Homo sapiens: one gene and its partner. The protein of the gene in region 2 binds, or shares a complex with, the protein of the main gene of each other region. Each region holds a gene or a part of one and is shown on either strand. Other genes may lie near its edges. The genes, in order: XPO5 and XPO1.

The links.
Region 1: XPO1 (region 2) and XPO5 share a complex: the UniProt entries of both Homo sapiens proteins name them as parts of the nuclear export receptor complex.

Annotation. Positions count from the first base shown.
Region 1 is NC_000006.12:43,572,188-43,580,813, forward strand, and holds the start of XPO5 (exportin-5), read right to left. Parts: upstream 3,852-8,626; 5' UTR 3,678-3,851; coding exon 3,573-3,677; intron 1,415-3,572; coding exon 1,293-1,414; intron 392-1,292; coding exon 319-391; intron 1-318. UniProt on the Homo sapiens protein: Mediates the nuclear export of proteins bearing a double-stranded RNA binding domain (dsRBD) and double-stranded RNAs (cargos). XPO5 in the nucleus binds cooperatively to the RNA and to the GTPase Ran in its active GTP-bound form.
Region 2 is NC_000002.12:61,492,740-61,500,817, reverse strand, and holds part of XPO1 (exportin-1), read left to right. Parts: intron 1-923; coding exon 924-1,105; intron 1,106-1,904; coding exon 1,905-1,953; intron 1,954-2,025; coding exon 2,026-2,145; intron 2,146-3,810; coding exon 3,811-3,939; intron 3,940-5,204; coding exon 5,205-5,363; intron 5,364-6,726; coding exon 6,727-6,924; intron 6,925-7,764; coding exon 7,765-7,903; intron 7,904-8,069; coding exon 8,070-8,078. UniProt on the Homo sapiens protein: Mediates the nuclear export of cellular proteins (cargos) bearing a leucine-rich nuclear export signal (NES) and of RNAs.

The DNA of each region.
Region 1 (8,626 bases), on a different chromosome or scaffold from region 2:
CCACCTCAGCCTCCTGAGTAGCTGGGCCACAGGCATGCGCCACCACGCTCAGCTAATTTTTGCATTTTTGGTAGAGATGGGGTCTCACTGCATTGCCCAAGCTGCTCTCGAATTCTTAGATGCAGGTGATCCTCTTACCTTGGCTTCCCAAAGCGCTAGAATTACAGGTGTGAGTCACTGTGCCTGGCCTAAATTATGATTTCTTGTGCTGTCTGACCTATTTAGAAGCAGTGAATTTTTACACAAACTCCCTATTGAAGAAGTCACGCTTTGCCTAAACTACCTTGGAAACATGTCTCCCAACCACCCATTCCTTACATTTGCAATCAGCTCCATGACACTGTTCTTCAGATACACCTTCTCCAATCGAGACATGCCGTTCCACCGAAACCTGACCACCAAAATGCATAAAGTCAATAGAACCACTTTAGAAGTCTTGTCTTTACAAGAGAATAGCATGGATTTCTACATTTGATTACACTGGAGATTTCATTAAGAAATTATACTTTTGATTTTGTACCTGTCAATGAATGGGCAAAAATGATCTACATTTAACCAAAATACTAACACAAAAATTCTTGGGAAAAGGTTTTATATATGCAGTGGTCCATTAACTGGAATCCGCACAAGATTTGTACCACACGTCAGCTTTGCCTCATGATTTTATTGATGGGCCAAAAGTGAATATACATCTAGGTCAACTGCAACAATGTACTTGCTTTTCAGAAAATGCAGTTTTGACATCAGTCATTTTCTGTGCTGGCTTACAAAACAATTCTGGAAAAACTATGGCTAAGTCTTAAAGGCTACCTCTTCTGATAGGTGTTGAGGGTAGGACAATCAAGTTAGGATGGGTTTTCAGTTATTCTCATACAATCCTGCTTTGGATGTACCACCCAGAGAAGGCACACAAACTCAGAAAGACAGAGAGAAAAAAGAAAGCCACAGTGCCTAATCAGAGATTCATTGACCTATACATTGCATTACTCTAAAAAGGCTTCGAGGGCTAATGACATATAGTCAGAGCTCAGTAAGTATTGGCTAAATGGCAGGTAATATTTGTTGAATGGGTAATATGTACCACACACTTTACATGGATGAAGAAACTGAAGAAAAGAAAGGTTAAATCTTGAATGAGAGCTCCTGTGAGGTTCTGATAACATCTAGGGGATCATTCCTCTCTTCTTGGAGATTGCTCTTCTCTACTCACCTAAACAGCATCTCTATAGGTTATATAAGATATAAAGATCTGTTCTCTCAGACTTCAGTGGTAATGTCCAAGAGCTCCTTACTTGACAACGTGTTCCAGGATCTGAAGGCCAAAATGTCTGACGATGGCAACTTGTGTTTTCTCAGCCAACCTCAAGCCACAGGGGACACAGATAGGACACTTTTCTTTAAACTCCTCACAAAACTGAAAGAAGAAAAGTTAGTGTTTCCTTTCGAGGGCTGAGAGAATAGGGACTAAAAGAATTTCATCTTAAGAAACTCCAACCAGGGCCGGGTGCGGTGGCTCACACCTGTCCCAGCACTCTGGGAGGCTGAGATGGGTGGACTACTTGAGTCTAGGAGTCTGAGACTAGCCTAGGCAACATGGCGAAACCCCATCTCTATTAAATATATATATATATATATATTTTTTTTTTTTTTTTTTGAGACGGAGTCTCACTCTGTCGCCCAGGCTGGAATGCAATGGCATGATCTCGGCTCACTGCAACCTCTGCTTCCCAGGTTCAAGCAGTTCTCCTGCCTCAGCCTCCTGAGCCCATGTAGCTGGGACTACAAGTGCACGCCACCACACCCAGCTAATTTTTGTATTTTTAGTAGAAACAAGGTTTCATCATGTTGACCAGGCTGGTCTTGAACTCCTGACCTCAGGTGACCCACCTGCCTTGGCCTCCCAAAGTGCTGGGATTACAGGCGTGAGCCACTGTGCCCGGCCCACTAAAAATATTTTTTTAAATTAGCCGGGCATGGTGGCAGGTGCCTGTAATCCCAGCTACTCAGGAGGCTGAAGTGGTAGGAGAATCACTTGAGCTCGAGAAATCAAGGCTGAAGTGAGCCGAGATCTCACCACTGCACGCCAGCCTGGACAACCAGAGTGAGACCCTACTCAAAAAGAAACTCCAACCTAAGCTATATGTTTAAAGTTGCAAAACCTAGATCAATATTATGTGGATCTCCAAGCACAGTTGCTTTAAAAATATATATTTAATATAAAAATAAAAATATAAAATATATAAAAGTTACACATATATAACATTTCCTCCAAGTGGTGTTCACTCTATTTTATGTGTATATATTATATATATATTATGAATAAAGAACTGATAAACATTCCTTCCAGCGTGATGGTTCCAGATTTTTTCCATGCTACGGCCAACAGTAGCCCTACTAGTGTTGGAAAAAAATGGACACAAAGGAATAAGAAATTATTTGTTAGAGACATCCCCCTGACGTACATAGGGGTGAAATAACAATTTCTAGGGTTTCTTTTAAAAACCTTCGAGGCAGGGAGAGAGGATAGGCGGTGGAAAAAGTAAATGCGGTAAAATCTTTGATTGCTGAATTTAGGTGACAGGAACATGCAGAATCACTGTCGTATTCTCTCCACTTTTGTGTCTATTTTAAATATTAATAATAAAAACCAAACTAATGGAACCCAATTGTTTCTGATTCCAAACCCTGTGGCAGACATCTACATATTGTAACATTTCCTCCAAGTGGTGGTCACTCTCTTTTTTGAAGTTAACATCACTTTAAAAATGTACAGCACAAGTATTTTCTCCTAAATGGCCATTTCTCACAGCCCACACACGTTGTTTTATGGGCAAGTAAGCTTGAATTGTATTAACACCCCCAAACTGCAACATAAGTCAGTCCCAAGAGCAGAGCATTCGGGTCTCACGCAAACTACTTTCAGGAAACCAAAGTGCCCTTGTTAAAATGCAAAGTAAGTGGTAGAAGTTATCTTTGCGCAAAATAGCCTAAAAATATTACACTCAAAAACATGGGAGAAGTAGGGGTGCGAGAATTTCCCCGGAAAATGTCCAAGACACAAACGAAAGTTAGCGAGATGTTAAAGCATATAAGCATAAGGGTACCAGAGGGGCTGGAGCTCGGTCAGGGCCAGGGGAGTGGGCCAGCAGGAAAACGTTTAGTGCAGGAGAGACCATAAAGAACGAAGCTGGTGTTGGGGGCGGGATCTACACGTGCGCCTCGGGAAGGCGAGGGGATGTCGGGCTTGGGGAATGAAAATGGGCGAGGGTCATGTTGCGGACAAGAGTGCACAGAAGCGAGGAAAGGGGGAGGAGAGGGCTGTGGGAAGCTGCGGCGAGATGAGAAGCAGCATAGGGACCGGAGTGTCCCAGGCAAAGGACAGGAGCGGCGAGTAGAGAAGGCGGCGATTTGGGAGAGGCGCGGAGGGCCGCGAGGGGAAGGTCCCGGGGAGTTGGGAAAGGAGGTCCAGGGGCCGCGTGGGCGGGAGACTACCCCAGTTACAGGCGGCGCCGGAGCTGCTGGGGCTGGGAGAGGGTGTCGGGACCGGCCCAGGACGCCAGGACCCCAGCTACCTTGAGGGCTTCCAGCCGGTAGCGCTGGGTGGAGTTGGGGTCCATCATGACCGTCACCGCTTTCACCAGCTGCTCGCACAGCGCGTTTACTTGATCCATCGCCATGCCTAGCGCCACGCGCCGAGAGCGCACACCACTGCAGTCCCGGGACCACGAGGCACGACAGCTCCCTCGGCGAGACCACCCGTTGGTACCGGGCCGCGGCGGGCGGCGGGGGTGGGAAGCTGGAGGAGGAGCGTTAGCAGCAACTCGCGCTGGGAAGAAGCCGGCGCTGCGCACGCGCCCGGCCCGCCACTGCGCACGCGCCCGCGGAAGTGGCGGCTCCCGTGTGCAGGTTGAGCCTAGGTGGGCGGGGCGGGAGGCGGAAGGGCCGCGGTGCGCAGCCGCGTCAACGGCCCTTCGCAGCGGGCGCGCTGTCAGACCTCAGTCTGGCGGCTGCATTGCTGGGCGCGCCGCTCTCGTCTGATCCCTGCTGGGGACGGTTGCCCGGGCAGGATCCTTTACGATCCCTTCTCGGTTTCTCCGTCGTCACAGGGAATAAATCTCGCTCGAAACTCACTGGACCGCTCCTAGAAAGGCGAAAAGATATTCAGGAGCCCTTCCATTTTCCTTCCAGTAGGCACCGAACCCAGCATTTTCGGCAACCGCTGCTGGCAGTTTTGCCAGGTGTTTGTTACCTTGGTAAGAAAATTTAGAACCGTTCGCTGTCACTGTGTTCAGACTTTCTATGTTGCCTTGGCTATTGGTTTTATAATGTAGCAGTGACTGGGCCAAGGTTGCGTGAAATATAAATCATGCTAACAGGGATAAGGCCCTGGTACTGTCTTCTAAGATTTTTCTTGTAGAAAAAAGTATGTTTTTCCCTGTAGTTGTTAAACCTCTCTCTTGGAATTACTTTCCTGGATGTATTATTACCTGGTGGGCACTAAACTTGTTTTGTGCGGATTGGGGTAACTCGAGATGTTTAAAGGGAATAATTGCAATCAGTGAAGGTTTGTGCAGTTTTGATAATTGGCCAAGTGCTATGTATAAGGTTTCAAAGTAGTGTAATCCTTATCCAAAAGCATGGCTTGGGCAGAAAGTCTTCTTCATTTTCCATCTTTATAAAGCTCTTGGCCGGGCGCGGTGGCTCACGCCTGTAATCCCAGCACTTTGGGAGGCGGAGGCGGGCGGATCACCTGAGGTCAGGAGTTCGAGACCAGCCTCACCAACATGGTGAAACCCCGTTTCTACTAAACATACAAAAATTATGTTTGCATTTTTAGTATTTTTATACAGGCGTGGCGGTGCGCGCCTGTAATCCCAGCTACTCGGGAGGCTGAGGTGGGAGAATCGCTTGAACCCGGGAGGCGGAGGTTCAGTGAGCCGAGATCGCGCCTTTGCACTCCAGCCTGGGCGACAGAGCGAAACTCCGTCTCAAAAATAAATAAATAAAGCTCTTGCTTTCTCCAGTAAATACATAAACGGAAAACCTCAACAGCTTTATTATCTGTTAAAGTCTGCATGTCTGTTTTTGTGATTGTGTGCTTAGTAAATTGTGTGCTGAACATAAATCACTGCTTCCTATTCTTGCTCCACTTCTGGTATTTGGATCTAATATGGTGCTTAGCCTGTGTTTTTTTGTGTTACAATACTATTTGTTGGCTCAGTCTGTTCCAGTACTACTGAAAAGCCACTTCAAAGTAGAGGGACTTCTGGCATGTTATAGTTTTAACTTGTAAATGTTTAAAGTATCACATTCTGCCTGTTTTAGGCGTGGTCGATTGGAATTTATAAGGAATTAATGCTTTGACTGCTCTGATTTTAATTATTTTTCTTTCCACTCACCTTCCTGCTTTGCAGTTGTAAGACGTTTTTTTTTTCAAGGTGAATGTTAGTTTTTGAAAAACTTTTTTTAGAATACAGTTGGGTGCTCACTCAACTGTATAACCTGTGTTTCTCGTATTTAAATCATGGATTGCTGGTGTTTCGATTGTCTTATTTAGGTCTTGGCTCCCAAACTGCTGCATATTGGAATTACCTGGAGAGCTTTTAAAAATCCCCGGCCTGGCGCGGTGGCACACGCCTGTAATCCCAGCACTTTGGGAGGCCGAGGCGGGCGGATCACGAGGTCAGGAGATCGAGACCATCCTGGCTAACACGGTGAAACCCCGTCTCTACTAAAAATACAAAAAATTAGCCGGGCGGGGTGGCACGCGCCTGTAGTCCCAGCTAATGGGGATGAGGCAGAGGAATCACTTGAAACCGGGAGATGGAGGTTGCAGTGAGCTGAGATCTCACCACTGCACTTCAGCCTGGGTGACAGACGGAGACTCTGTCTAGGAAAAAAAAAAATCCCCATGCTAGGCCGAGCGCGATGGCTCACGCCTGTAATCCCAGCACTTTGGGAGGCCGAGGTGGGTGGATCGCCTAAGGTCAGGAGTTAGAGACTAGCCTGGCCAACATGGTGAAACCCAGTCTCTACTCGAAATACAAAAATTAGCCGGGCGTGGTGGCGTGCGCCTGTAATCCCAGCTACTCAGGAGGCTGAGGCAGGAGAATCGCTTGAACCCGGGAGGCGTAGGTTGCAGTGAGCCGAGACTGTGCCATTGCACTCCAGCCTGCGCAACGAGAACGAAACTCTAACTCAAAAACAACAACAACAACAAAAAACTCATGCCCAGGTCATACCCATACCAATTAAGTTAGTATATATAGTTGTGGAAGTCAAATATCAGTAGTATTTAAAGCAGCCTGGCGGGGGGACAAGAGCGAGACTTTGTCTCAAAAAAAAAAAAGTGTCATGGTCATGAAAAACAAGGAACAACCGAGGAAATGCCACAGATTGGGGGGCAGTAAAGTATGTAGTTAATAATATGCCAATGTTCATTTTTAAATTTTGGTAATTGTGTTAAGTAAGATGTTAACATCAGGAAACTGGGAGTAGGAGAACTCTACCATTTTTGCGATTTTCTGTAAGTCTAAAAGTATTTCAGAGTAAAAGGTTGACATTTTTCATGAATGCTATGATGTTATATATTATTTTCTCCTTCTCTTTTCTCTGAATTTATACTTGAGATTTGTCTGTCAACTGATTCCGTATTGGTTCTCTTCCCCTGGTGATGTGCATTTTAATTTCCATTTCCCCATGACTAATGATGGTGAGCCTATTTTTATGTGCCAATTGGCTATGTTTGTATTTTGTGGTTAGTTCTTTTAAGGATAAGTATTTTTAAAGCTTTTAATACCTATTGCCTTCATAAAATTGTACTAATTTATCCTTATGCCAGCAGTACAGGTTGAGTATCTGTGATATTGTGATATATGTATGTTAGTTTTTGTCCACGGTTCCTAGCTCATAACTCCCCTAGCTTTCGTTATAATGTTGGAGCTCTTGAAGCAAGCCTCAGAAAACAGAATCTCTCTCTGGCCTTCTGCCCTCCTTTCACCTGCCCAAAGCAGGACTCTAATCTTCCCCTGCCTTTCTGATTATGGGTCATAAGACTTTCATTTCAGAAGAGTTCCTACCCCATACCCTGGAGAAAGGAATGCTACCCAGAGAGGCCAGGAAGAATCTGGACAGGCCTTGCTGGGTTTCCCCAGTCTATTAGTATTAGATCATATCTTTTTTGTCCAGTCACATTTCTACACGGATGTCAGTCATGCCTATCCAATGAAGTTTCCATAAAAGGCCCAAGAGGAGAGGGTTCGAAGAGCTGCTGGATAGGAGCAAAAGGAAGTTCCTGGAGAGTGGTGTTCCCAGGGAGGGCATGCCTTGCCATGTGTATCTCTTCATCTGTATATCCTTTATAATAAACTAGTAAATTTGATTACCTGAGTTCTGTGAGCCACTCTGGCAAATTAACTGAACCCAAAGAGGGGCTCATGAGATTCCCAATTTATATCCAGTCAGTTAGAAGCACAGGTAAAACAACCTGTGGCTTGTGATTGGCATCAGAAGTAGGGGGCAGTCTTGTGGGACTGAGCCATCAACCTGTGAGATCTGACGCTTTCTCCAGGTAGATAATGTCAGACTCGAATTGGAGGATACCCACTTGGTGTCTGCTGCAGAATTGATTGCTTGTTTGTTGGTGGGGAGAAATCCTCACACATTTGGTCACAGAAGTCTACCTTATTGATTGTTGTTGAGTGAAAGAATCTTTTTTTTTTTTTTTTAAATTTATTTTTTTATTGATAATTCTTGGGTGTTTCTCACAGAGGGGGATTTGGCAGGGTCATGGGACAATAGTGGAGGGAAGGTCAGCAGATAAACAAGTGAACAAAGGTCTCTGGTTTTCCTAGGCAGAGGACCCTGCGGCCTTCCGCAGTGTTTGTGTCCCTGATTACTTGAGATCAGGGATTGGTGATGACTCTTAACGAGCATGCTGCCTTCAAGCATCTGTTTAACAAAGCACATCTTACACCGCCCTTAATCCATTTAACCCTGAGTGGACACAGCACATGTTTCAGAGAGCACAGGGTTGGGGGTAAGGTCACAGATCAACAGGATCCCAAGGCAGAGGAATTTTTCTTAGTGCAGAACAAAATGAAAAGTCTCCCATGTCTACTTCTTTCTACACAGACACGGCAACCATCCGATTTCTCAATCTTTTCCCCACCTTTCCCGCCTTTCTATTCCACAAAGCCGCCATTGTCATCATGGCCCGTTCTCAATGAGCTGTTGGGCACACCTCCCAGACGGGGTGGTGGCCGGGCAGAGGGGCTCCTCACTTCCCAGTAGGGGCGGCCGGGCAGAGGCGCCCCTCACCTCCCGGACGGGGCGGCTGGCCGGGCGGGGGGCTGACCCCCCAACCTCCCTCCCGGACGGGGCGGCTGGCCGGGCAGAGGGGCTCCTCACTTCCCAGTAGGGGCGGCCGGGCAGAGGCGCCCCTCACCTCCCGGACGGGGCGGCTGGCCGGGCAGGGGGGCTGACCCCCCCACCTCCCTCCCGGACTGGGCGGCTGGCCGGGCGGGGGGCCGACACCCCCACCTCCCTCCCGGACGGGGCGGCTGGCCGGGCGGGGGGCCGACCCCCCCACCTCCCTCCCGGACTGGGCGGCTGGCCGGGCAGAGGG
Region 2 (8,078 bases):
ATTTCTTCTTTTCTTGTTTGAAATGGAGTGTCGCTCTGTCGCCCATGCTGGAGTGCAGTGGCACCGTCTTAGTTCACTGAAACCTCCACCTCCCAGGTTCAAGCAATTCTCCTGCCTTGGCCTCCCCAGTAGCTGAGACTACTGGCCCGCGCCACCACCCCTGGCTAATTTTTGTATTTTTAGTAGAGACGGGGTTTCACCATGTTGGCCAGGCTGCTCTTTTTTTTTTTTTTTTTTTTGAGATGGAGTCTCATCCTGTTGCCCAGCCTTGAGTGCAGTGGCCTGGTCTCGGCTCACTGCAACCTCTGCCTCCCAGGTTCAAGAGATTCTCCTGCCTCAGCCTCCCGAGCAGCTGGGATCACAGGCACACGTCACCATGCCTCGCTAATTTTTGTATTTTTAGTAGAGACAGGGTTTCACCATGTTGGCCAGGCTGGTCTTGAACTCCTGACCTCGTGATCCTCCTACCTCGGCCTCCCAAAGTGCTGGGATTACAGGCACGAGCTACCACGCCCAGCCTGGCCAGGCTGTTCTCAGACTCCTGGCCTCAAGTGATCTGCCCACCCTGGCTCCCCACAAAGTGCTGGGATTACAGGCATGAGCAACCGCGCAAGGCCTCCTAGAATAATTTCTACATATCTATCAGGCAGATACTAATACACAGACAGACCCATTAGACGGATTGGACCTTTCATTAGGATAATTGAAAAGGGTCCTGCGGTGATTAAGATAAAAGACTTTGTGTTTTGTTTTCTACCCAGTAGGGTGAAGAGGGTGGCACATTTCTTCCTTTAATAAAGGAGGAGAAAATGAAAAGTGATTTATCCTTACTCCTGCCTTTATCCATTACATAATTTCTTTGAAGTTTGTTTTATTTGCCTTTGAGAAATGAAGTGCGATTAACATTTCATGTCTTGTTTTAGATACTGAAACAAGAATGGCCCAAACATTGGCCAACTTTTATCAGTGATATTGTTGGAGCAAGTAGGACCAGCGAAAGTCTCTGTCAAAATAATATGGTGATTCTTAAACTCTTGAGTGAAGAAGTATTTGATTTCTCTAGTGGACAGATAACCCAAGTCAAATCTAAGCATTTAAAAGACAGGCAAGTAATAATTATGTTTTAGAATTTTAAAGTGATTTCTCAAACAATTTCAAGCAGTTTGGATGTAAATTGTAGATATTTTAAGGAACTATGATCAGTAATATGTTAAATTGCTTGTAGTGGTTTTCAACTGCAGATTAAGAAATAGTCCTAGACGGGGCCTAATAATTTACCTCTGAAGGTTGAAAAATGAATTGTTCAAGACACACTTCAGGAATTGTTTTGTATGGTAACTAGTTTAATAGGTTCTAAGCAAATGATTTGTGTCCAAACATACGTATTAGTTATTTTATTTTATTTTGAGACAAGTCTTGCTCTATTGCCTGGGGTGGAGTGCAGCAGCGCAATCTTGGCTCACCACAACCCCCACCTCCTGGATTGAGGTGATTTTCTTGCCTCAGTTTCCCAAATAGCTGTGACTGCAGGTGCATGCCACAGAGCCTGGCCTCAAATCAGTTATTGTCTCTGCTTCTTTTCAGTTCCCCAATTGTTAACAATAGTGTTCTTTTTAAAACAAAACAGAAAACTAGATTTGCCTCTAATAGTAAGCAACTGGTATAAACTATAGTTATACTTCCATTAAGTTTTAAACATTTGTTGTAGTCATTAGGAAATCTTTTTCCCCTTGGGTTGCCCAGGCTGGTCTCAAACAATCCTTCTGCCATGGCCTCCCAAAGTTCTGCGATTACAGGCATGAGCCACTGTACTGGGCTTTAATCATTTTTATTAGTATTATAGATAACTGATACTTATTTCTGTGTCTTCTAAATCTGATATTTTTGTGTGTTTTTTTTTTTAGCATGTGCAATGAATTCTCACAGATATTTCAACTGTGTCAGTTTGTAATGGTAAGTGTTTTTAATTTCATTTTTAAAAACAATAATAGGAAAGCAATTATTTACAAGTGTGTTTTGTTATAGGAAAATTCTCAAAATGCTCCACTTGTACATGCAACCTTGGAAACATTGCTCAGATTTCTGAACTGGATTCCCCTGGGATATATTTTTGAGACCAAATTAATCAGCACATTGATTTATAAGGTACAGTGAATACATTTCAGTTATTTGTCACCGGATAGCCACATATATTCTTTTCACATGTAAAGCTCTCATCTCTGCATTCTAAACCTTATTCAACCTTGTTTCTAACACGAGGACGCTGCTCAGGAGAAATTTCCCATATTCACACCTAGTAAATTATTTAAAGTGAGTTTCAAATCTGATTCTGCCACTTAGACCATGTAATTTTATGAATTCATTTTGAACAATGGATTTGATTATATTGCTTTTAGTTTGAGTAAGTTACAGTGAGGTAAGTCAAGTGCTATTTCTGAAAAATGAAAAGTTCATCTTTTAACTGATAATTTAAAATTGATACCATGTTATGGCTTAAGTTCTATAATGGTTTAGCCTGGGCAAGTTGGTGAAACCGGTCTCTACTAAAAATACAAAACAGCCAGGCGTGGTGGTGTATGCCTGTAGTCCCAGCTACTCGGGAGGCTGTGGCAGGAGAATCTCAAACTCAGGAGGCAGAAGGTGCAGTGAGCCAAGATCGTGCCACTGCACTCCAGCCTGGGCAACAGAGCGAGACCCTGTCTCAAAATAAGTAAAGTTCTACAGTGGTTTATCCAGAGATAATCACTGTTACCAGTTGGTTGTATTATATTTTCAGATGTTTTCTTGACTGATATAATGAATAAATTAAGTATCTAATTGGAACATTATAACTTGACCTCTTCAACTTCGTAGTTTAGTTTGGTAAGATAATATGGATTTATAGTATTTGAATGATCAGTTTATTGCTTAATTATGTAAAAACCTTTCTATTGTCAACAGTCCTACAGAGAACATTCTCAGACATAAGATATTATGCAATTGTCCAAACATTAATTTATTTAAATATTTTAATGTTTAATCACCAGATTATTAGGTATGTTTAATTTTAAGGTTTTAATGCCCCCTGATTTCCAACCCCAGACGATAACTGTTTATCTTCTCAACAATAGAATATATAAGCCAATTTTCCCATATTCTTATTACTCTTAGATACATTGACCATTTCCCAAAATTCTAAGCAATCACAAGTTTTAGGTCCTGTGTAATTACACAGAAAGTATAACATTCCTAAAAGTCATATCACAGATTCTAGGAAAGTTGTTAAGGAGCCTTGTTATTTTAGGACACATCAAAAGAAAGCAGTTTAGGCCGGGCGCTGTGGCTCACGCCTGTAATCCCAGCACTTTGGGAGGTCGAGGTGAGCGGATCACGAGGTCAGGAGATCGAGACCAGCCTGGCCCAACGTGGCAAAACCCTGTCTCTACTAAAAATACAAAAATTAGCCGGGCGTGGTGGCATGCATGTGTAGTCCCAGCTATTTGAGAGGCTGAGGCAGGAGAATCGCTTGAATCCAAGAGGTGAGGTTGCAGTGAGCCGAGATCAAGCCCCTGCATTTCAGCCTGGGCGAGCGAGACTCTGTCTCAAAAAAACAAAAAAAGTTTGCTCCTAAAGCATTTACTGTATACTAGGTAGGCAATAAAATTCCCTCTCAGTATATCTGCATGATAAAATATGTTCATTCACTTGGCCTGTTTTTGACATCTACCCCTATATTTAATTGTTAAAGCCTTTTTCCTTTTAATTGTGAATTTTAAGTAAAGTGTGTATCAGGCCAATTAATTTTATGGTTCCCTCCCCCCTTTTAAATAGTTCCTGAATGTTCCAATGTTTCGAAATGTCTCTCTGAAGTGCCTCACTGAGATTGCTGGTGTGAGTGTAAGCCAATATGAAGAACAATTTGTAACACTATTTACTCTGACAATGATGCAACTAAAGCAGGTAATATAATACTATCTTGAAAATTGGCTGAATAATTTTAGTGCCTTAGAAAATACCAAATTCCAAATGAGTTATTTTAGAACGACGTATCAAAGATAAGCCATAATCTTTTGTTTATTACATAAAATTTGTAGTAAGCTACAAATTTTTATGATGTTTCCAAAAATTTCTTAAAATTCAGGTTTGGGGTGTGTTGTGGTAATTTATTTCTGCACACTTTAGGAGCTTGGTCTTTTGGGAGATACCTGACCAGACAGTGGGAAACCTGGGACTTGTTCCTAACATTGTGTCTGAAGGAATTCTTTTCAGCCCTAGTTTGATTGGTTATCTATTAAATGATCTAGAAGGTTATTCATAATACTGTGTTCATGGCCAGGCATGGTGGTTAATACTGTAATCCCAGAACTTTGGGAGGCCAGAATGGGAGGACCAGTTGATGCCAGGAGTTCGAGACCAGCCAGGACAACATAACCAGACCATACCTACGAAAGATTTAAAAAATAGCTAGCTGTGGTGTTGCACACCTGTAGTTCCAGCTACTCTGGAGGCTGAGGCAATAGGATCGCTTGAGCCTATTAATACAAAGTTAAAATGAGCTATGGTCACACTATTGCACTCCAGCCTGGATGACAGGGTAAATCCCTGTCTCTTTTAAAAAACAAGGAAAGATAGATTACTATGTATGTTTGTGATCTGAATGAATGAATTGATTATTTTTACATTTTTCAATGTCAGTGAGAAATACTAGAAAAATTTAAAGGCTGTGATAGCGGCCTTTAATTTATTTGAGAAGAGTCAAAATCTAAGTCCTAGAGATATAAGAATAGGTATACTGGACCTAGGAGTTCTGTATGTGGTTTAATATTAGCAAAAGGGTGTTGGGATATTAGGGCTTAAAAATAATAGTGTTGGCTGAGTGCAATAGCTCAGACCTTTAATCCCAGCACTTTGGGAGGCTAAGGTGGGAGGATTGCTTGAGCCAGGAGTTTGAGACCAGCCTGGACAACATAACAAGATACCGTCTCTACAAAAATGTTAAAAATAAGCTTAGTGCGATGGCACATACCTGTGGTTCCAGCTACTCGGGAGGGGCTGAGGAGGACTGATTGGGCCTAGGAGGTGGAGGCTGCAGTGAGCTTTGGTCATACCACTGCACTCCAGCCTGGACAGAGTGATACCTTGTCTCAAAAAAATAATAATAAAATATTAAGTGTCTTTAGTTGTTTTATAAAATGCGAACTGATCGTCCCTTTTAAAATTTGCAGATGCTTCCTTTAAATACCAATATTCGACTTGCGTACTCAAATGGAAAAGATGATGAACAGAACTTCATTCAAAATCTCAGTTTGTTTCTCTGCACCTTTCTTAAGGAACATGATCAACTTATAGAAAAAAGATTAAATCTCAGGGAAACTCTTATGGAGGTAAGATATGTGGAGCTTTTGCTCCTAAAATTCTGCTCTGCCTACTAATAACTCTTAAAAGTGCCTTTTTCTAAAATGTATGTACCTTTTGAGATTTCTTATTACTTAATATTTGATCAGTACATTATATATATTCTCAATTCTGAATTACAGTTATAAGCCCAGTTTTCTGATTTTATGTTCTCCATAAAGCTAGGACTAAAAATTTATAATCAAAATTAAATTACTAATTATTATATCATTTCTAAGGTTAAAATTTCAAAGACCTTATTTTAAAATTTCAGTTTTAATTCAAATAACATGCATTTGTTCATTTAAAGATATACAATTCATCGTGTAATCCCAGCACTTTGGGAGGCGGAGGTGGGTGGATCACTTGAGGCAGGAGTTCGAGACCAGCCTGGCCTACATCGTGAATCTCTGTCTCTATTAAAAATACAAAAAAATTAGCTGTGCGTGGTGTCACATGACTGTAATCCCAGCTCCTCAGGAGGCTGAAGCACAGGAATTGCTTTAGCCCAGTAGGCTGAGGTTGCAGTGAGCCAAGATCACAGTACTGCACTCCAGCCTGAGTGACAGAGCAAGACTCTGTCTGAAGGAAGAAAATGTCTCTCTCTCTCTCTTTATATATATATATAAACTTAAGTATATATATATATAAACATAAGTATATATATATATACACACACACACACAATTCAGTGGCATATTAGTATATATACAATGTTATACAACCATTAATACCTAGATCCAAAACATTTTCATCACCCGAAGGTGACCCTTTACCCCTAAAACAGTCACTTTCTCCTTTGTTCTCTCCCCAACTTCTGGCAACCATTATTTTGGTTTCTGTCTCTGTAGATATATCTATTCTGATTATACCATATAAAGGGAATCATGCATGTGACCTTTTGTGTCTGGTTTCTTTTATTTGGTGTTGTGTTTTCAATGTTCTTCCATGTTGTAACCTGTATCAATACCTCACTTTTTATCATGTCTGAAGAATATTCTCATTGTATGAATATTCAGTATTTTGTTTGTTCTCTCCTCTGTGATGGTACATTTGGGTTGTGATACCACTTATTGGCACCCAAGGCCTTTTAAATAAATGTCGTTCCATTAGGAGACATGATAAAAATACATATTGATCAACTACTATGTGAGAGATTTTTGAAGTGCTTTAGGGCATGTCAGAAGAAGCAGAGTTACTCCAGAGTTTGCTGTCTATTTGATAAGTATTGAAATCTGAGTTGTGATGAATAAAACATGAATTTTTATTTTCCCTTAAGGTGTAACAAGTGAAAAGCAATTTGAAGTTGGTAATGTTTAAGAATTATTTTAACAGTTTTGGTCTTCTGTGTAGGCCCTTCATTATATGTTGTTGGTATCTGAAGTAGAAGAAACTGAAATCTTTAAAATTTGTCTTGAATACTGGAATCATTTGGCTGCTGAACTCTATAGAGAGAGTCCATTCTCTACATCTGCCTCTCCGTTGCTTTCTGGAAGTCAACATTTTGATGTTCCTCCCAGGAGACAGCTATATTTGCCCATGTTATTCAAGGTAACAGAGCGGTTGGTTGAGTGTTCTTCCTGTTGCATACTGTGGTTTTGAGGTCTGAATCCAAATACTTCTAATCTGTGTAAATAAATTAGCTATAAAAAGAGAACCCAACAACTTCTCCATGAGTGTGGAAAACTAGAACATGAAAGGAGTTGAGTCTAGAACCTTGATTCTCAAGAGTGTGGTCCTTCTCTCAGTATCAACATTGGTTGTGATTTCGTTAGGCAAATTCATTGGCCACCTGCCAATCTACTAAACCAGAGTCTAGGAATGAGACACAGGAAACTCCTGTAACAGAAGTTGGTTAAAAAAATCACATTAAAACACACTTAAATAATTATAAAGCCATTTTTGTAGAATTACAGTGAAAAAAAATTTTTTCTTTTGGAGACAGGGTCTTGCTCTGTGGCTCAGGTTGGAGTGCAGTGGCGTGGTCATAGCTCACTACAATCTTGAACTCCTAGACTAAAGCAATTCTCTTGTGTCAGCCTCCCAAGTAATTGGTTGCAGGCACACACCACCATGCCTAGCAAATTTTAAATTTTTTAGTTTTACTTCATTTATATTTACATAGTTTTTTCTGTTGTGCTTTAAGCCCCAGTATTTTTATTGTTTTAGAGATTGGGTGTCATTTTGTGTTGCTCAAGCTGCTCTCAAATTCCTGGCCACAACAGTTCTTTTTGCCTCGGCCCTCCGGAATAGTTGGAATTATAGGCATGAATCCCTACACATGGCTGGCTTGTGGTTTTTTTGGTTTTGTTTGTTTTTAACTAAGCTTCTACACTAATGATTTCAGTGATCTAACGATTTTTTTCTTGATTGATATATTGTTGAGTATAGGTCCGTTTATTAATGGTTAGTCGAATGGCTAAACCAGAGGAAGTATTGGTTGTAGAGAATGATCAAGGAGAAGTTGTGAGAGAATTCATGAAGGATACAGATTCCATAAATTTGTATAAGAATATGAGGGAAACATTGGGTAAGTTAATAAATACTGTTAATCTTTACCTTTATAAATCTATTCTGGGGTGGAAATACATTTTAGGAAATGTACTTGTAGTTTCTAAATATTTTCTAAATGTATTGTTACTCATCAATAAAATTCTGCTCATTATTTGCATTTGAAACCATGTTTTTCTTTGTAGTTTATCTTA